6 linked regions of the Homo sapiens genome follow. The protein of the gene in region 1 interacts with the protein of each later gene in a pairwise test. Each region holds a gene or a part of one and is shown on either strand. Other genes may lie near its edges.

The links.
Region 2: the proteins of ADRA1A (region 1) and ATP6AP2 interact in a two-hybrid assay, tested with the Homo sapiens proteins (one large-scale study listed by BioGRID and IntAct).
Region 3: the proteins of ADRA1A (region 1) and GPR37 interact in a two-hybrid assay, tested with the Homo sapiens proteins (one large-scale study listed by BioGRID and IntAct).
Region 4: the proteins of ADRA1A (region 1) and FLNC interact in a two-hybrid assay, tested with the Homo sapiens proteins (one study listed by IntAct).
Region 5: the proteins of ADRA1A (region 1) and SCN1B interact in a two-hybrid assay, tested with the Homo sapiens proteins (one large-scale study listed by BioGRID and IntAct).
Region 6: the proteins of ADRA1A (region 1) and HHATL interact in a two-hybrid assay, tested with the Homo sapiens proteins (one large-scale study listed by BioGRID and IntAct).

The regions. Positions count from the first base shown.
Region 1 is NC_000008.11:26,770,794-26,773,278, forward strand, and holds part of ADRA1A (alpha-1A adrenergic receptor), read right to left. Parts: intron 1-2,485. UniProt on the Homo sapiens protein: This alpha-adrenergic receptor mediates its action by association with G proteins that activate a phosphatidylinositol-calcium second messenger system. Its effect is mediated by G(q) and G(11) proteins.
Region 2 is NC_000023.11:40,597,970-40,601,469, reverse strand, and holds part of ATP6AP2 (renin receptor precursor), read right to left. Parts: intron 2,790-3,500; coding exon 2,736-2,789; intron 1,879-2,735; coding exon 1,729-1,878; intron 709-1,728; coding exon 589-708; intron 1-588. UniProt on the Homo sapiens protein: Multifunctional protein which functions as a renin, prorenin cellular receptor and is involved in the assembly of the lysosomal proton-transporting V-type ATPase (V-ATPase) and the acidification of the endo-lysosomal system.
Region 3 is NC_000007.14:124,759,293-124,762,792, forward strand, and holds part of GPR37 (prosaposin receptor GPR37 precursor), read right to left. Parts: intron 1-3,500.
Region 4 is NC_000007.14:128,854,406-128,857,088, forward strand, and holds part of FLNC (filamin-C), read left to right. Parts: intron 1-7; coding exon 8-277; intron 278-369; coding exon 370-507; intron 508-793; coding exon 794-909; intron 910-2,112; coding exon 2,113-2,245; intron 2,246-2,339; coding exon 2,340-2,516; intron 2,517-2,683.
Region 5 is NC_000019.10:35,029,005-35,033,269, forward strand, and holds the start of SCN1B (sodium channel regulatory subunit beta-1 isoform a precursor), read left to right. Parts: upstream 1-1,465; 5' UTR 1,466-1,816; coding exon 1,817-1,856; intron 1,857-2,266; exon of another isoform or gene 2,267-2,776; intron 2,777-3,523; coding exon 3,524-3,690; intron 3,691-4,265. UniProt on the Homo sapiens protein: Regulatory subunit of multiple voltage-gated sodium (Nav) channels directly mediating the depolarization of excitable membranes.
Region 6 is NC_000003.12:42,699,999-42,703,932, forward strand, and holds the start of HHATL (protein-cysteine N-palmitoyltransferase HHAT-like protein), read right to left. Parts: upstream 2,801-3,934; 5' UTR 2,581-2,800; exon of another isoform or gene 2,543-2,580; intron 1,524-2,542; exon of another isoform or gene 1,469-1,523; intron 1,193-1,468; exon of another isoform or gene 1,190-1,192; coding exon of another isoform or gene 1,134-1,189; exon of another isoform or gene 1,114-1,133; intron 842-1,113; coding exon of another isoform or gene 829-841; coding exon 723-828; intron 1-722.

The sequences.
Region 1 (2,485 bases):
TTCTCACATTTGACTGACTAGCTCCTATGACTGTCACCCTTTTGCAATATCTTCAAAGACCATTCCTACTTGGTCCGCGTGTGTCATTAATTACAGGAGCAGGCCCAGTGGGTAGGGTTGCACTGGCTCTCAGTGACCAACAGCTGCTGTGAAGTTTTACCAAATGAAAATGTGAAACTCAGACTGAGTCCACATATGTAAATTGTTTTGCCTAAATTGAAAAGTAAGTTGGAATCCATGCAAGTAATCCATATTAAAATTCGGTTATCTGAACATGCCCTTTATTCTCTGATGCAGTGTTATGCAACAGACACAGCCTCAGTGTTTATGAATTCCTCCCCTCCCAAATGTTAGAATTATGGATTTTGATGAGAATCTCAACTTTACACAATATTGGCCTTGCCAAAGTTGGGCCAGTGATTCTCAATCACTTTTCCTAGATGATGTCTTTTGATGTCACCGTTAGCTCCCTTTGTCAATATCCCTCGATGTCTCCCAAATGTGTGTCTTTGCTTCACATTCGGAGTCCTCCACAGCCTCTGGTCTAACCAGCTTTCTAATATGACTAGTTGCTATTTTTTCTCTAGCCAGACTCACTACACTTTTTCTCCAGGTCATTGATCATTTTTTTTGTCCTCTCAAGTTGGGCCACTGTGTCCTTGATGCCCTTTTCCACCTTCTCTACCTACCCAAACCCTACCCGTTGATGTGCACGGCAGGAACCAGGCCTCAGGACCCGTCACATCCTGCGCAGAGACTGCCACAGGGCATTTCGCAGCAGAAGAACAAAACTGTGAAGTCTTAAAATGGAACAACCTTAAGGATTATCTCCTCCAATTACTCAATTTACAAATTTAAAAAATGCTTATTTAGCCTTTTCCCAGCTGCCGCCAAGATGCTCTGCCCTTCTGAGCTGAGGCTGCGTTGGGGTCAGGCCCTCACTGCATCCAGCACTAGCACTACTCCGGGCAGCCCAGCCTTGCACTTGTCCACACCACGGACTCCATCTCAGAGCTCGCCTGCACTGACTCAGCCCTCATTCTGTATAACGCTGAGGGGATCATCACATAGGATAAGGTCAATGTCGTTTCTAAAGCAGCTGGGGTAAATGATGACGGCTTTTGGCCTGGCTTGTCTGCCAAGGCCCTGGCCATCGTCAACTTCGGGAGCCTCCTCTGCAGTGGAGGGGCGGGGTGGGAAGACCTGCTCAGCAGCTGGTGGTGTACCTGCGGGAGGTCCTGCCCTTCTGTCACTGTGGCCTAGGCCGAGAAGAAGAAGGTGGAAGCAAAGAAAGAAGAATCTGGAGTCTGATGATAATATGGGCTTTTTTTTTTTTTTTTTGAGTAAACCTATTTTATAACACGTTCAATAAAAAGCTGAACTCTTAAAAATGCTTATTAAAGAGATTGTCACAAACCTCATAGCTACAATACTGATAAGAGTGATGGATAAAGGGTATGGGACTCCCAATCCAATGTTCTTTATTCTCTGATTCTCAGACTTCCAAGGGCTTTTGCTAAAGGAGCTTTATGAATTATGAAATCCCAAACGTCCCTCTTCACTCCTTTCAGAGAAATTGCAAAATAACATCTTGACTTTCCTTCCACCTCCTTTCTTTTCTTTCTTGGCTCCCAAGCTCCTTTTCCTTCTCCGCGGGCTTTTAGTCACAGCTTCGTGTACAGTTGGTAGAATGGCTTTGGGAAACTCCTATGATGCCTTTGGGCCTCCAGTTTTCTTATCTGAAAAAGGAGTATGTTGAATGGATGATTCCTAATGGCCCTGAACAATTTTTTTGTTGCTGTTGTTTCAAACCTAAGGTCTTGATTTTATGTCTTTCTTTTCCTCTCTGCTCTGTGGACCTATCAGAGCCGTGACAAATTGCTGGTGCTATTAAAATCCACTCTGGCAAACAGTGCTCTGAAATTAAGTCAAAAAGCTCATCAATATAAACAAAGAGTAAACTTAAATACTGAAGAACCCAAAGAAGACACAATAGTGTGGTTGTTGATGGGAGCATTTATTACCTCTGAAGCACACTCCCTGCTAAGTTCCATGTGTCTCAAATTCACACACACACACACACACACACAATGGGTGTTTATTTGGAAAACATGTAAAGTGAGAAAGTTTTATTCTTTAGCTCTAAAGCTTTTCATGTTGTCCTATAATTATAATAAAGTTTACAGTCTTTGAATGCCTGATTTGAAACAGGCAAGGCACTGTGCTGAACACTTTCCATATGATTTAATCATCGTTAGTAACATGAAGAGTTATGTGACTCTTCCCTATTTTACAAATGAAGAAACTGTGGCTTAATGAGTTTGAGTAGCTCAACCGAGGTCACTCACATAGTTACTGGTAGGTTTGAAATTAGGCAGTGTGATTGATTTCAGGGCCCATGCTCCTTTGTGGAATCTCCAAATATACTGCAATAATACATCTCTTAGGAGGATAGCTGATGGGGAGTGATAAAGTGTGCAGCTGG
Region 2 (3,500 bases), on another chromosome or scaffold:
CATACCCAAAAAAACTGTTAAGTAAATCAAAATCATAAAGAGGTGCACACAGAGGATCTCAGTAAGTGAGGGACTACGCCACAAAGACAATGTGCCTGCTAGAAAAGCAGAGCCCATAGGATGTGGGCACCACACCACTCCCGCACACATTCACTTCTTTTTGTTTTCAAAACAGGGTCTTGCTATGTTTCCTCAGACTGGCCTCAAACTCCTCCTGAGCTAAAGCAATCCTCCTGCCTTGGCCTCCTGAGAAGCTGCAATTACAGATGCACGCCACTGCACCTGGCGCCACATTAACTTCTGATATCTCCTTGTGTGTACTGATATTTGAATTATAATCTTGGACAGATTTACTTTTATCCCTAATTCAAATTCTTGCATTATCTGATTATAACCCTAAAGAACTGATCATCACTGGCAAAGCACACATATGTATGTGAACAAGAAGCTTACGTTTTAACTGAAATTGTTTTTCAGATTTACTGACTGCTCATTCATGTCACCCTTAGGTGATATAGGACTTGGTTTTTTTTTTTTTATAAGAAGTTAATTTTACAGTTTTAAAGCAGGATCTCAAAATATACTCACCGCTTGTTTTGCCTCAAGGATAGTCCTTGTCTTCCTAATGAGGGAGGTGTCAAATGACTTGACAGTGACTAACTCTACCACTGCATTCCCACCATAAAGACTGTACATGTCATCTGCAAACTGAAAGTTAGTTATTAACATTATTGGGAATCTCAACTATGTACTTTTTTCATTTTTAATTAACAAATTAAAATCATATATATTTATCACATCAACATATTGTTTTGAAATATGTACACATTGTGGAATGGCTTAAGTCCACATTGGCTAATTAACATATGCATTACCTCCTACTTATCATTTTATGCAGTGAGTCAAATACATACTTATTAAAATTATTTTTAAAGCTTTTGTGCAGCTACAAGAACAATGTACACTTACCTCCTGGCTCATGAAATATACTACATCTTACAATAAGCAAGTCTTAAAGGTTTTGATTTTGCTCAACTATACAGAAAAGTGTTAAGCTTTAACATATATTCAAATGTTTAGACTAAAATTACTTTAAGAAGAGACTGAATTTGTCAGCATATAAATTGGAGGAAGGGAAGTTGGAAAGAGAAATGAAATCTTCCTAAGTGGTCTCTGGTTAATCACAAACATCTATAAAGATTAAAATATGAAGCCTCACTGAAAGGATGCAGGTGAAGAACTTCAAGGGCAGAGGGGAACTAGCATTTATTATGCATCTACTGTCTGGTACTGTGCTGGGTGTTCTACTTCAGTTATCTCATAGTGTTTAAGGAGTACAGAGTTTCAGTTGGGGAAGAAGAAAAAGTTCTAGAAATAGAAGATGGTGATGGTTGTACAACATGTGAACGTACTTGCACTTAATACCACTGAACTGTACAATTAAAAATGGTTAAAGTGGTAATTTTATGTTATATATATTTTACCACAATAATTTTGTAAAGCTTTGTGTGAGATAACTTTTCCTAATGCTGTTCTTTCTAGCATTAGGAAGAAATATATCAATATACATTTTTGACCCTACTCCATCCTTGGCCAGTATAATTAGAGGAGCCCCAAAGAAGGCAAATAAGAGTTCAATCAACAGTGTTTGAAACAGCAGATTTTTCTATTAAGAGGCTAAAAGTGAAATGGTCATACTCCAACCTCTCATGTCGCATTGATATTTACCTTTTGCAGAGCGTCAACAAGGATCTTAGAAGCATCTCTGAATTGTTCAGAGTCTTCCCCATAACGCTTCCCAATTTCATCCAAACCTGCCAGCTCCAGTGAATATAAATCAGGAGAATGATCCTTGGCTAGATGCTTATGACGAGACAGCTTAGGAGAACAAACAAACAAAAAAAGGTAGCGGATAAAGTAAGATGAAAGACGTCAAACACAGCCAGTTAAAGTTTTATGCCTAACTAAACTAGGCTAAACTAAACCATACCAGTGTACCACAACATGCAAATAGTCTAAAATGGTGGCAAAAGAAACTGGTTTGAATAAGCGTTTCTGATAAATCCAACACGAATCTCATGTTTAGGAGCAGTACAAGACTCCTTGGATATTTAATAAAAGCTTTCAACAAAATTCCTCAGTTTTAAAAACTCAGGTATGGGCCAACGTATGAAAGAACAGATGGCTGGACCAGTTTGATCCCAGGAATGCACTACACTTCCAGACTCCCCGAACCAACACCTGTTGAAAAAGTTTGGAAAACAACTTCAGAAGGTAGCAAACAGATAAGAATTTCTATTTCAGTAACAAGGATGATTTTTAAAAAATCATTCACCAAAAAAATACCCTTCAGACGGATTTCGTCCCTTCTTGACTTGACTGACAGCATTATTAGTCCAAACTATTATTTCTATTTTAGGCCCAAAGATATAGATAGGAATTAAGTCTCACAAGAAATCAACAGCCAAGTTAGGACTATGGCCAGGGTGTTCTTACGCCCAGGCTTGTGTTCTTGGAAGATATGTTGTCTCTCCCTAAAAAGCAGAAATGCAAAATAATTTGACTATAACATGGATGTGTTCAAAATTCCCAATATTGCCACTAATTTTTCAATTTTCATGGGATCATAAATCTAGGGCATACTTAATCAAACTTTTCAACTGCCTTTACTATTATTCAAGGATTCTCTAGAAACCAAAATAAATGGAATTAAAAAATTAGAGCAGCCTACTTACCAAGCTTGAAATATCATGTAGCACTTGCAGTTCAGAAAGAAAGAGCAGGTCAACCTTCAGAGAGCCCAAAAAAAAAGAGCATTCTTTTAAATGTGCACCAGAGATCTTTATTTGCCATTTACCAAGCAAGGCACAGGATATTACAAATGTTGATCATATAAGTGAATTTATATAATTATCTTCCATTTGGTATGTTTGCTTCAATTGAAAATGCATATAAAACATTATTTCCTAACAAAAAGGTGATGGCCATTCCCTAGCACAGTGACTGCCACTCAATAGCTATATTTTTGGCAAAACCATGATAAAGCATCCAAGTTCTCCAGTGGTTTTCCTTCAAAGCATCAGGATATCCTGGCACTCTGCAATGACATCCTACCATTGGCCCAGTTTGCTCACTTCCCTTGAATAGTTTCCACATCAGAGAATAAAGGATGATGGCCCTGGTCATCCACAGCAAATAAAAAGGGGAGGCCACCACGAAAGTGGCATGCCACATGGTTAAGAGGGCGCATGAGCAGATGGAGAAACTGAAGGACAGGAGTCAAAAGTAGAGGTGGCTCCCTCCACTGCAATGTCCAGAATGAATGAGAAAAATGTGGCAACAAATCAGCAGAGGCAGTGAACAATGGCTTCCAAGTTACCAGATCCACACAGCTCCACCAGTCACCAAGTAGATCTATGACCTCTGGCTTGTTTGAATTAATAGGTGGCAACCCTCGTGCTAAAATGTGATGTTATTTACCACAGCTCAACTCACAAAAA
Region 3 (3,500 bases), on another chromosome or scaffold:
CTGGGCTTAAGCAATCTGCCTGCATAGGCCTCCCAAAGTGCTGAGATTACAGGGGTGTGCCACCACACCTGGCCCAAATTATTTGGTTTTAAACACTTGTTAGATTCCTAAGTGAATGGTAGGTATGGTAGAGAACTCCTCTGCCATTCTCCTATTGCAATCCACACCCACACATATCTCCACCTCCCCTAATACACATAAAAGCACACTACATATACAAGTTTTGTTTTGAGTATAGTTTTTTTCTTGTGGCTAAGTAATAAACCACTTTAAACTGATGTGTCTAGGAGGACGGCCATGATCTATCCAAATTTTCTTCTCTCCTATCTGGCATTTCCTACCATTTCATTTGTCCTTCGACTTTATGAGATTTATTATTAGGCCATAAAGATGTCATAATCCTGGAATAGAAAGGGAAAAGTCATCAACTACAACAGTTCCCAGAACATTCTCACTCACGGCAATATTAAACATCATAAAACTTCCTTTCTCACAATAGACCTTGGAAGCTGGGTGCTATCCTCAAGCTTTAGGCCAACAAATTAAAATAGAAAGAGGAGTTGAATGAAAATTAGAAAAAGTATAGTTTTTACTCAAGAAGTACCTCATATTTTTCTACACAAACCCAAATCTTCCCCAAAATCCCACGATTCCCTTCAGATTATGCTAACGCTCAAGCTGTACAGGAGAAAGAACTGTGGTAGAAAAGAAAAATAAAGCAAAAGAGAAGCTGGGAGAGAAAAATTATAAAATTCAATCATAATCTATTGAGAATAAAATTTAAAATTAACTACGAAAAAATTAAAAATAAAAACACTGAAAAAGGTTAAACATCTTACTGGAAAATGGTGAATGCTACATCATAAATCTATAAGAAGGTATTATACATAGTTAAAGAAAGGAAAAATAGCCAAGAAATAAAATAAGAAAGTAACAAGTGAAGGAATGGCAAAATTTAGAAATATGAAAGTAGACAAGATGTCAAAAAATTTTTAAAAGTCTTGAGGTCAGAGGCAAAATTTTGGAAGGGGATTTGGAGAAAGTTTGAACAAATGTAATGTACTTGTAATGTCCTTCACCAATCTAACATACTTCATGATTTTAAGAACATAAAATTTAACCTATATAACTTTTTGGTCATTAAAGTCATCATGCTAGGCAAATTAAAAAGTATAGTTGTCTCAGATTACTGCAATTTAAAAAATTTTAATTAACTACCAATTGCAGAACTTACTGACAGTTTATGAGAAACAAAAGAAGCTATACATTTCATTATATAACAAATGATGTTTACGGGTTTTTATTTTTTCCTGTCTAGTGGATTAAAAAAAGAAAAAATTTTTCAGATGCCAAGGAGCGGAAAGGAAAAGAAAACACTCACTGGATAAAGCTTGTGCTTCATACAGGTTGGTCTAATCAGCAAATATAAACATGAAGCATTGAGACCAAGGGTCTGGTGGCTACTGACCAGGTATATATGTTTAGGATAGTCTCTGAGCTTCAAATTTCATCTTTAAAATGAGGGAGTTGGATTAGAACATTATCTATGTCTGATTTAACATGATTGTTCAAAAGCTACTGTAAGCTGGGCGTGGTGGCTCACGCCTGTAATCCCAGAACTTTGGGACGCAGAGGTGGGCAGATCACAAGGTCAGGAGATCAAGACCATCCTGGCCAACATGGTGAAAGCCCATCTCTACTAAAAATACAAAAAAAATTAGCCGGGTGTGGTGACACGCACCCGTAGTCCCAGTTACTTGGGAGGCTGAGGCAGAATAGCTTGAACCCCTGAAGCAGAGGTTGCAGTGAGCTGAGATCGTGCCACTGCACTCCAGCCTGGTGACAGAGCAAGACTCCGTCTCAAAAAAAAAAAAAAAAAAAAAGCTACTGTAGTGGATGCTGTGGTTTTCCACCCAGACAGCTCCCTCCAAAGTCCTTCAAGAATGAAGCACTGATTCCTCCAGCTGCTGGGGCTATTGGTTGACAGTGCTTAGCTGCATCCCTCTCTAGGAATTGCCCTTGACCAAAGAGATCCACCCAACTCAAGGTTATACCCCATCCTGGGAGCAGGCTTGCATCCAATGTCTTACATCTAATGACTGGTCCATAAAGAGATGTAAAGGCTGAGCCCTCTTGCCTCAATTTGGGATATGGCTGCATGGCCATCCCAGCCCTAAAGCTCCTAATGGTGTCAGCTGAGGTCTCTGTGGCAATTGCATCACAGTTCAACTTCTCCCTTTGCCCGCCCAATCCTGCTTTCTTCTTTCCTTAATAGGTTGAACCTGAGAGCACAACCCAATAAACTTGATGCCCCAATAAATCTACATCTCAGGGCCTGTTTTTGCAGGAACCCAACGTAGGAGAAACCCTAAATACCTCTTACTTTTGTGAAAACATCAGTGCCTCCTGGAGACACACTTTTATTTTGAGATTTGGACTGTAGTTCTTGTTCTCAGTAATCAGGAATTATGAAGCCAGCAATATTGTCCAATAATTATTTTTATAAACCATTCTAAAATTATTTCAGAGTAATAAGGATTAGGTAGAAATATAGAAATGCTACATATTAAGATGTTCATTCACTATTTTAACAGTAAAAATGTATATTATACTGTAATTTTAAAAAATAAATGAGTGAATTTTTTAAGCCTTTGATTCTCTAAGAAAAATAAATGCTAGCACTAATAACTGAAAAATAGAGAAAGCTACTAGGATGGGGAAAAGTTAAGCAAAAATACAGAAAGTAAAAGATTTTACTAATAATAAGAGGCAAAAAACAAAGCACTCTTAAGGAGGAGCTGATTAAATTAAAAAGTGAAATACAAATGAAAGAAAGTATTACATTTGTACAAACTCAGAATTACGGAAAAAGAAAATTAAAATAAGTACATAATAAATGCCATTGCTCAAAATGCTTATATCTCATTAAATTAACCAAAGTTTTTATAATCTTTCCTGAATTTGATATTCTTTTCTTTTAAGGTGTTCTTTCAAGAACTTTGGTGTTTTTATTTTTCTTTCCCCAATTTCCTTTTTCTGTCCTATTGTTTTTCCCTCTAGTGTATACAGATTTCTACATGTCCAGTACATTTCCAGTGAGATAAGCCAATACACTTCTCTGTCATTGAGGTACCTCTCTTGTCCGCTTTATACTTTTGTCTCTTTCTTGCATAAGTCAATTTCTTCTGATAAAAAAAAAAAAAGAAAAAAAGAAATTTGAAACTGACCTTGAAGAGGCAGTTTGGTAAATAGACACATATTCTCTAACATGAGTTCAACTGGCTCCTTCACAATTCAAAAATGAATTGTCTACCAAACAAAGTAGATGTTTCAGAGATACGCCAAGCTTGGCAACAGGAGAAATCATGGACGCTGCTAAAGCAGCAACAGCTGATTTCATAGTCATGGAATGATCCTGCACCTGATCCCTGTCAAGATAACAGAGGGTCTTATTTACTGTCTCCAGCTTTGGTCCGTCTAAGTAGGTACTGTTTTCTGTT
Region 4 (2,683 bases), on another chromosome or scaffold:
CCTGCAGGTGAGGCCAGCTCTCAGGACATGACTGCACAGGTGACCAGCCCATCGGGCAAGGTGGAAGCCGCAGAGATCGTCGAGGGCGAGGACAGCGCCTACAGCGTGCGCTTTGTGCCCCAGGAAATGGGGCCCCATACGGTCGCTGTCAAGTACCGTGGCCAGCACGTGCCCGGCAGCCCCTTTCAGTTCACTGTGGGGCCGCTGGGTGAAGGTGGTGCCCACAAGGTGCGGGCCGGAGGCACAGGGCTGGAGCGAGGTGTGGCCGGCGTGCCAGGTAAGGGGCAGGTGGCCAGGAGTGGGGATGAAGTCAGGGCAGCCAGTGTGAGGGGCGATGATGCTGAAGTCCACTACCTTGCCTGTCCCCAGCCGAGTTCAGCATCTGGACCCGGGAGGCTGGCGCTGGGGGCCTGTCCATTGCTGTGGAGGGTCCTAGCAAAGCGGAGATTGCATTTGAGGATCGCAAAGATGGCTCCTGCGGCGTCTCCTATGTCGTCCAGGAACCAGGTGGGCGTCCACACTGGCAGTGGGGCTGGGCCTGCCTGACCTTCCAGACTGGGTTTCTGCCCACTGGCCAGGCAGGAGATGCTTGGGGCCACAGAACTCCCCTCCCCGGAGCCCCCTGCTCTTCCTCTGCCCCGTCTCCCTCTACCCCACACCCTCAGAAACATGTGTCTGCCTCCAGATCTGAGCGCTGACCACAGAGCCTTTCCTGGGATAAGGCCAGGGTGGGGAGGCTCCCGCCCTGCCAACCTCCATCCCGGAACCTGTGCTGACTGGTCTCTCTCCCCAGGTGACTATGAGGTCTCCATCAAGTTCAATGATGAGCACATCCCAGACAGCCCCTTTGTGGTGCCTGTGGCCTCCCTCTCGGATGACGCTCGCCGTCTCACTGTCACCAGCCTCCAGGTTTGTGCCCAGGGTGGGGGTGGAGGGTTTCTGCTATCTGAGAGATGGGCAGGAGTTGAGGACAGCAGGTCCATGGGGCCAGGGATTTAGCAGTGACCTTGGAAGGGCCAGTTAGGAGTCCCTTCTCATAAGGCACGAGGCAGGGCCCTTGGGGACGGTGGGCTCCCACCCTGGGGGCTTGCCCGTGCACTCAGGCATGCCACGCCTCGTTCTGCCTTTCTCAGGGTGTGTCTGCCTGTCCTACTGCCACCTGCCATTTCTTGTTACAGTTTGTTCCACCTTCTGTTGTAAGAATGCTAGATGACAACATTTATAAGAATGAGAGCATAAAATCTATACAAACTAAGAGTAAACCAGTTTGCACAGAGGGTGTGAGAGGCTCCTCTAAAGGGAATGCCTATGGGCTGCAGAGCCTGGGCTGCATCCTCTTCAGGCCGCTGGGGGCCTGGCTTGCTTTCTCTTGCTGCTGACTTCTAGAGATGTGGTGTGTTCCTTTCATTCTGTCACAGCGGACATGTGCAAGGAAGGCTTTCAGCAAGTCACACTGAAACATGCAAACCAGGGGGCCAGGTGTCCAGGGGACACATTGTAAAGGAGCTTCTGCATAAGGCGCACAGAATGGGCTTCACCCCACCTCCTTCTCCCACGCGCCTCCTGGCTGCCCCTCAGGGTGGTCACATTGGCCCATCCAGAGTCCTTGTGCATCTCCTCCTCCCACTCCTGAACTGGGCTCCCCGATGCAGGCTCCAATCCCTCCCCCAGAGCCCTTCTGTGCTTCTTCTGGTCCTCCCTGTTGGTCCACCTTCTCCAGGAAGCTCTCCCAGGCCAGGCCAGTGAAACTCAGCTTCCTACCTCAGAGCTCTCTGGCACCCCCAGCCCACACAGCCCATCAGGCACTTGCCCTCCGCCCTCAGCCTGCTTCACACAGAGTGGGGCCCTTCCTTCCTCAGCCAGGACAGGGCACATCGTCTGTCATCTCCCACACACCAAGCACAGCTAGGATAGCAGGTGCACACATAGGGTTGCATACCGGACCCTGGCTCCTCCTGCTCCCAGGCTGGGCTGGCAGGCAGGGGCCAGGCTGGGCATGGGGTGGCAGCAGCCTTTGGGCTGGGCTTACAGTGAGCACCGTGTGGGGCTTCAGAGAAGACTGCTCCAGCCCCGGCCTCCCAGGAGTCTGAGCATCCTCCGTGGCCTTTGCAGGAGACGGGGCTCAAGGTGAACCAGCCAGCGTCCTTTGCCGTGCAGCTGAACGGTGCCCGGGGCGTGATTGATGCCCGGGTGCACACACCCTCGGGGGCTGTGGAGGAGTGCTACGTCTCTGAGCTGGACAGTGGTGAGCTGGCCCTGCCCCTGCCAACTCCCTTCCGGGCTGGGGCCTTCTGGGGAGGGGAAGGATGGAGGCTAAGCCACCAACCCTTTATCCACAGACAAGCACACCATCCGCTTCATCCCCCACGAGAATGGCGTCCACTCCATCGATGTCAAGTTCAACGGTGCCCACATCCCTGGAAGTCCCTTCAAGATCCGCGTTGGGGAGCAGAGCCAGGCTGGGGACCCAGGCTTGGTGTCAGCCTACGGTCCTGGGCTCGAGGGAGGCACTACCGGTGAGTGCCTGGAGCTGGGGAACAGGGTGACTTCTGGGGGTGCTTGGCCACTAGTCTGGTGCTGCTTTGCTCCAGAGGTAGGGGCCCTGCTTCCTAAGCCAGGAGTCCCCACAGAGGCTGTCCAGGGAGCTGGGGCCCAGTCCCTCTTGGGCCACAAGCCCTTCCTG
Region 5 (4,265 bases), on another chromosome or scaffold:
GGCCTCCCAGAATGCTGGAATTACAAGCGTGAGCCACTGCGCCCGGCCTTTTTTTTTGAGACGGAGTTTCGCTCTTGTTGCCCAGGCTGGAGTGCAGTGATGCGATCTTGGCTCACTGCAACCTCTGCCTCCCGGGTTCAAGCGATTCTTCCTCAGCCTCCCAAGTAACTGGGATTACAGGTGCCCACCACCACTCCCAGCTAATTTTTTTTGTATTGTTAGTAGAGACGGGGTTTCACCATGCTCGTCAGGCTGGTCTCGAACTCCTGTCCTCAGGTGATCTGCCCCCCTTGGCCTCCCAAAGTGCTGGGATAGCGGGGGGCGGCTCACATCTGTAATCCCAGCATGGTCAACATGGTGAAACCCTGTCTCTACTAAAAAATAAAAAAATTAGCCAGGCATGATGGTGCACACCTGTACTCCCAGCTACTTGGGAGGTTGCGGCAGGATAATCGCTTGAACCCGGGAGGCGGAGGTTGCAGTGAGACGAGATCAGCCACTGCACTCCAGCCTGGGCAACAGAGCCAGACCCTATCTCAAAAAAAAAAAAAAAAAAAAAAAAAAAAAAAGAACATAATGTCAGGTAGTGAGGCTGCTGTGGAAAACACTCAACAAGAGGTAAAGAGTAAAGGAGGTCAGGTTAGGAGCGGGGAAGGCAGTTTACCCTGAAGGGACACAGAAGACCTGACGAAGGTGACATTGGAGCCATGGAGGCCCACGGAGAGGGGCGGGGCAGGGGGGGAGAGCCGGGGCAGAGGGGAGAGCTGGGGCCAAGGCCCTGAGGCAGGAACGGGTTCCCTGTGTTGGGAACAGCAGGAGGGCCTGAACAGCCAGAGTGGAGTGGGAGGAAAGAGGGGTAGAAGGTGACATCAGGGACATAAATGGGTGCAGGGGATCACGAAGGGGTCCTCCTCCTGAAACAGCACCTCCAGATTCCCGGGGCTGCTTCTCTCCAGGGTGCCCCGCCTGCTTGGGTGAGGTCCGGATTGTAGCTGTAGTCCTAGCCTGACGGCCCCCCACCCTCCTCTAATGCCTACTTGGGGTCCCTGCACATTGACCCCCAGGCCTGGATATCAGGGCTCAGGGGAGATAACTTGGAGGTTCGCCCTCTGGAACTCCTGAGGATGACCTCCATCATTTGAAGTCGGAAACCCGGCCCCCAAACTGCGCTCTAAGTCCTCCTGTGACTCTGGGGGTGACCTTTCCAGACTCCCTGGGAAGGTGGGGGGGGGGGGGTGGTCCTCAGAGCCCCAGCGGGGTCGGAGACACACAGACCACCCTCCCCGTTCCCAGAAGTCGCGGTCCCTGCGCCACCCGGAGAGGCCGGTGCAGCGGGCGCCTCCCGGGCCGCTGCGGCAAAGGCTGGGCGGCCGCGCCTTCCCCCCGCGGTGATTCATCCCGCCCCCTCCCTCTCCTCCCTCGTCCCTCCCTAGGCCGCCGCCGCCGCCGCCGCCGCCGCCGCTGCAGTGCGCAGGAGACCGCGGTCCGCGCCCGAGCGCGCCCGAGCCGGAGCGGGACCGGGGTCGGTGCACCTAGCGGATGTGCCCGGCTGCGCGCGCCAGCGCAGCAGCCCGAGCAGCGGCCGCCGCCCGCGCGGCGGGGATGCCCGGACGCCGGGCCCCGGGGCTGGGCCCCCGGCGGTAACCGGAGCGGGGGGGCCGCGCCCCCCCTCCTCCCCCCTCGCCGGTCCCAGAGCCGCAGCTGCTGCGCCCGCGCGCTCCCGGGGACATTCTAACCGCCGCCAGGTCCCGCCGCCTCTCGCCCCGCTATTAATACCGGCGGCCCGGGAGGGGGGCGCAGCACGCGCCGCGCAGCCATGGGGAGGCTGCTGGCCTTAGTGGTCGGCGCGGCACTGGGTGAGTGCGCGGGGGGCGCGCGCGGCCGGGGGGCACCGCGGGGGCACTGGCGGGGCGGCGGGAGTGGCGCTCGGGACACGGGGCAGCCGCGCGAGGGCCACCCCCGGCCCATCCCCGGGCCCCGCCAAGTCAGCTTCAGAAGTTGTGCGCGCGGGAGCCGGGCTTGGGGAGGGCAGTGGAGGTGAGGGTGGGCTCCAGCGGGTGGGGGCCGGGCTGGCACAGCCTGGCGGCTGCAGGCGCCCAGCCGGGGGCGAGGAAACGCGGAGTCAGCTGCTCCCGGAGCCCCGCAGGCTGCAATGTGACACCCACAGCCGCGGGAGGGGGGTGGGGGGAAGGCGGCGCCCGGAGACTGGGACGGGAAAGACGGAGGGACAGGGAGAGATGAAGACGGGAGGAAGGGGGCGAGAGACAGAGAAGGACTCGGAGCGCACCGGAGTGGTCCGCTGGGATGCTGGGGACATGGGGGTCAAGGGGGAGACGGAGACAGAGAGAGGGGTATTGGAGAGAGAGAGAGAGAGAGAGAGTTAAGAGACTGAGCGCGATGGAGAAAGGGAAACTTGAGAAAGGCAGAAGGAGATGGAGAGAAGAGAGAGGGAGATGCGGGTGCCCGTGAACACCGGGAGAGAATCTTGCATGGAGTTTGAAAAGGGATAGACGTAGAAAGGTGGAAAGAGATTAGGAGAGGTCTCCTTCTGAGCCCAGAGAGTGGACAAAAAGTGGAGGGACCTTCAGAGAGACCCCTGAGAGGGACAAAGATAGGAGGGACTGAGACAGAGGCCCTCAGGGAGTCTGAAAGGGACCGCAGGGGAGGCGGATGGATGAGAAGTCCTGAGGATCAGGAAACAAGGACAGCACAGGGCTGCAGCAGAAGAGACACAGCGTTAGCTACAGAGTGCTGGGAGGCAGAAAGGAGGTGCCAGGTAAGAGTGTGAAGGAATTCTAAGACTGGAATTCAGTGGGCTGCAAAAGCCCTGGGGCAGGAGAGAGCTCAGGAAAGCTTTGAGTAGTGGATGGGGTTGGGGTGGGAAGAGCTCTAGAGGCGAGGAGCCTGGGGAAGAGGGGATGATGGAGGCAGGAGAGGCCGGGGAGGGGATGGCTCACACAGGGGCTTGTGGGCTGTGGAGAGGGGCTGAGTGTGGGTCAGCCCCGGTTTCAGTGCCCACCTCCCCACAATCCCCCACCCCCAGACCTTTTCTCCCAACCCATTTCTCCTGGAGCTAGCTGGTTTTACAATTTAATGGTGAAAATGACTGCCACCTTAAACTTCTAACTTAGCTGGAATTCTCATTCTACCACCTAGATGCTTGGGTTCCTCCAGCAAGGGACTTTCTGAGGAAGGGGCACTCGGGTAGCATAAAGTCTGAGTTACCGGCAACGTTGACAGTCCCACTTATGGGGCCTCCCATGTACAAGGCCCTACCTAATGTATGAAAATGGGCCCAGCCATTGCTGGAAGCAAAGGACCATTTCTTTCAACAAGAGAGAGGGAAACTGAGACTCAGGGATGAATGACTTGCTGAGGTCACGCAGTGAGTGACAGGGCTCAGCCTAGCATCCAGTCCTGTCTGCTGGTAATCATTGAGGGGGGAACAGATGGTTTGTGAGGGGTCTGGCATTGCTTAGGGCAATGGGTGCCTCTGCCTGACCTGAGCCTGCTGTCCCCACAGTGTCCTCAGCCTGCGGGGGCTGCGTGGAGGTGGACTCGGAGACCGAGGCCGTGTATGGGATGACCTTCAAAATTCTTTGCATCTCCTGCAAGCGCCGCAGCGAGACCAACGCTGAGACCTTCACCGAGTGGACCTTCCGCCAGAAGGGCACTGAGGAGTTTGTCAAGGTGTGCGGGTGCCGGGAACGGGCATGGGAGGGCAGGGGTCCACGAGTGGGAGGCGGTGGGGCTGGATCTCAGGGAGGGGGCTTATTTGTTTAATAATATGCTGTGATTGCTGACCTGGATTCAGATTCTGGCTCCACCAGTGGCCAGCTGGTGACCTTGGCCAAGTCAGTGAGCCTCTCTGAAAGTCAGTTTCCTCCTCGGTAAAGACGGGGTGGCGGTGGTCTCTAGCCCATAGGTTTGTGTGAGGACTGAATGCATTGACGCACCTGGCACACGGTTGGCATGAAATAAATGTCAGTGGACTTATTTGGCACCAGCAAACAATGTCTCTGATAGTCATTACGGAGGGAAGACAGAACTGTTTTTTTTAACCTCCTTTAAACTATGTGTGTATTTTGCATTATATATCGGTGAGGGAACCATAAAATTCTGTGACGTGCTGGAGAGTTGGGGTCTCCAGCTGCTGGAATCAGGCTGCCCTGTCTCTGCTGGAGGAGTGTGTCTGGTGGCTGGGAAAGAACGGCAGAGAATGATAGCCTAGAGGCCAGATGGGGCTTGGGAGGATGACTGAGGAA
Region 6 (3,934 bases), on another chromosome or scaffold:
CAGGACTCTGTGTGTGTGTGTGTGTGTTGGGGTGTGTGTGTATATGTCTGTGTGTTTGTGTGTGTGTCGGGGTCCAGGTCTCTGTGTGTGTGTGTGTGTGTCGGGATGTGTGTGTGTGTATGTCTGGGTCTAGGTCTCTGTGTGTGTGTGTCTGGGTCCAGGACTCTGTGTGTGTGTGTGTGTGTGTGTGTGTTGGGGTGTGTGTGTATATGTCTGTGTGTTTGTGTGTGTGTCTGCATCCAGGTCTCTCTCTGTGTGTGTGTGTCTGGGTCCAGGTCTCTGTGTGTGTATGTGTGTGTGTGTGTGTTGGGGGGTGTGTGTATATGTCTGTGTGTTTGTGTGTGTGTCTGGGTCTAGGTCTCTGTGTGTGTGTGTGTGTGTCGGGATGTGTGTGTGTGTATGTCTGGGTCTAGGTCTCTGTGTGTGTGTGTCTGGGTCCAGGCCTCTGTGTGTGTGTGTGTGTGTGTCTATGTGTGTGACTCTGTGTCCATCTCTCTGTCAGTGTCTCTGCATCTCTGTGTTCCTGTGACTGAACCTGGCTCCACCCAGCCTCCAGTGACTATCTGAGATGGGAACCCCGGGCTGAAAAGGGAGATCCAGCCGTGTTCTAGAAGGAGTACCCTAGGTCTGGAGCCTGTAACTTTCTGGCTTTGCTGGTTGGAACCCTGAGGCCTCCAGGGGAAGAAGGGTCCTGTCCACCTGCCCCGGGGCACAGCCATTACCTTGTGAAGCCTCAAGGAGGCCCCGGCCAGCATAGGCCAGGGCCCCACTCAGCACCAGAGAGTAGAGGCCCAGCTCAGCCGCCGGCAATGCTGTCTTGATGCCCATAGCCTGGACAGGGCTGGGGAGACAGGTTGGGTGAGGGAATTACAGTCTCCAGCCAAGCCTAGCCCCACCTCATGGTCCCACCACCCCAGTGGGGACCCACTCTGAAGAGAGATTGCCCCTCCAGCCCCTTGGGGACCTTGTACCATCACTCTGCCTGCCCCTGTGCCCCCCACAGTTCACAGGCCACCGAACACCAGTGCCCCATCCCAGCTGCTGCTCTTGCCCCCACCCCACCCATCAAGGCTCTTGCCCGCAGAGCCCTCACTCGCAGCCTGCCTCCCTCACCTTCATTTACATCTTCATACCTTCCAGAGGCACCGGCCCCACCCTCTGCCAAAACCGCTCCTGCCAAGGCCCCCATGACCTGCGTGCGGAGAAACCCCACCTCTATCACTACAGTCAGGTTTCTGCCTGCAGGGTCCCCACCTCGATCAGTGAGTCTCCCTTAGCTCCTCACAAAGCCCCAGCTTCTCTAAGACCCTTTCTCTGACTCCCACTCCCCTCCCTGAGATCCCATGACCACCCCAGGTGCTGCCCCTAGAGCCAAGCCTCCATCCTCGCATTAAGCCTCCAGCCTGTCACTGACCCCCATTCCCCCAACAAGTCCCTGAGCTCCAGCCTGTCACATCCCAGTCCCTGCCTGTGTCCGTGACCACACTGCCCCACTCTCTCAGCGCTCTGTGTATTCAGGCCCTGGGCACCAGCTGGAGGCTGTGCTATTTGAGGAGGTGCCCAGGAGTAGCGGATGTGGGGCCAGGCGGGGCCAGGCGGGGCCAGGGAGGGCACTGGCTGCTGTCCAAGGTGCTGACCAGAATCAGGCCCCGGCTGAGTCTCACCACTCCCTCCAGCGGGGGCCTAGCTTGTCCCCTGGAGAACTGCTGGGCCGTACTACGGCTCAGCTAGCACCTTTACCCTTCCTATCCCGCTTCAGCCTGGCTCAGGGGCTTCCCAAGGACTCCATGGATACAGACATAGGACCCAAATTAAAGGGAGGAAGCAGGGAACATGTCCAGGCAACTCTTGGGCTGACGGGGCCAAGAGGTGGCTGATGTGGCCCTTTTGCCCACCCTTGATCCTCCCCTAAATCTTCATCCCCAGCCCTGTAGCCATCTCCCCTGGGCCCCCCAGCAGCCGACGGTCTCCTCGTACAGATGGAGGGGTCATGGGCCAGATAGGGGCAGGGACCTGTCAAGGTCACATGGCAGACCTGGGACAGACTTCTGCCTGCCTCCCTTCAGGATTGGGTTTCTCAGTGACCCCCCTCTGGAATCTGGGGTAAGAGAAGACCACCACTGCCCCTGCCCACAGCAGAGGCTGCCAGCCTGATGGCTGTGCTGTCGGCCTGAGGGTGGAGGCACCTCCTCATCAGTTGGGTGGGGGTGGAGAGGCCCTGGGGATCAGGTTAATGGAGCAGGAGCTTGAAACCGGAGCATGGTGAAGAGCCCGTGAAATAGCTTTGTCAGCTGCCTCCCACTCGCCACTTTCCAATTTTAGCTCCCCATGGCCGGTGCGGGGTGTCCCCAGTGAGGCCTCTGCAAGGAGCTGGCCCCCAGCCTGGGGCCTCTCCTGATAGACCCCCAGACCAGGGCTGGCCTGTGGACACGGGGGCATACCCTTTCCCCTGGTCCTGCCTGCCCCAGATGCCCCGGGGGTAAAGCCCCTTTTGGGGCCTGTGATTTGGGATGAGGGCCTGGGGTGTGCCCCACAAGTCTCAAGAGCCCCAGAGTAGCTGCATCCCCAGCTGGCACTGACCTTGAGGAGGCCGCAAGGGACCCTGGCACACTGCCCACCTCAGGCTCTGGGGTCCGGCTTCCAACTGTCCGTCCGTGCGACCGGCTGAGCTCTGGGGCCACGGTGGGGTGTGTCCAGCCCTGGGGTCCCCACCCCCTTGAGGTTATGAGCGGTGAGTGGTGACAGCGGGAGGAGGAGGGGGAGGAGGAGGTGGCCTTCCTGGAGCGGAGCTGAGCAGAGTGGAGCAGAGCCGAGTGCTGCAGAGCTGCTGGCCACAGGGAGCCGCAGGGAGGATCCTTGAAGGGGGGCGGGTGCTGGGTGGGGGGAGGGTGTCCAGTAGCATAGGCTCAGACAGGGACACCTGGGCCTCTCTTCAGCCTGCCTCCCCTGGCTCCTAGAGAGCCTGTGCCTCTCTCTCACTGCTACCCAGGACTTCCCTCTTCCAGGAAGACTCCTGGTGGTCCCACCAGCCTCTCCAGGCTTGTAAGCCCTGCCCCCACCACAGACACACACAGTCACAACATGCAAACACTTTCATGCTTGGGCTCCAGGGACTCCAGCTCCTACCTTTACATATGACCTCCTAAGGGCTATCCCAGGGCAGACTTGTCTCGCCCCATGACCTGGTCCTTTTCATTATGCCGTGAGTCCTGGCTGGCCATGCATCAGTGCCTGAGGGAGGGCTGACTTGCCTGATGGGACTGGAACTGGCATGGGACATGTGGCTGAGAGGGATCCCCATAAGTCAGCCCTGTCCCATAGGGAGTGTCCTGGATGGAGGGGTGCTAGCAGGGTCACTTGGCAAGGCTTGTGGGTACTTGGAATGGCTGGTATCCTCTCGGTGGCAGAGTGGAGGCAGACAGGAAGACAGGTGTGTTCCTAACCAACTGGGAGTCCTGGTAGGACAGGGCCCTCATTCTGGAAGGGAGCATCCAAGGCCTCAGCCCTGGATACCTGAGGGGAGGGGCATCCTGAAGGTGCCCCTGAGATTAAGAACCTCTGACAGTGCCCCTTCGGTTGAGGCCAAGTCTCGGGCAGCTGTATGTGTCTGTGCTATCTAGGGGGACCTGTTCACCTGTGTGCTTGTGGGGAGGCTCTCGGGGGTAGAAGGAGCTTTGTGGCTGTGATCAGTCACAGGACAGCTCCTGGAGCCCCTGCTGATCCTATGACCCCAGCTTCAGGCTCAGTTGAGGAGGCAGGAGGGAGGTGCTGCTCCCCACCCATCAGGGCCCAGGAAGGGGAGAGACTGCACTTAGGCAGGGAGCTGCCTCCCGAGCACATAGACACGCTGGCCTGGAGAACAGCAAGGAGACGCCCAACCTACACACTCCACACAGGACACAGAGGCCCGTGTCTGTGGTCCCCGACCCTGAGA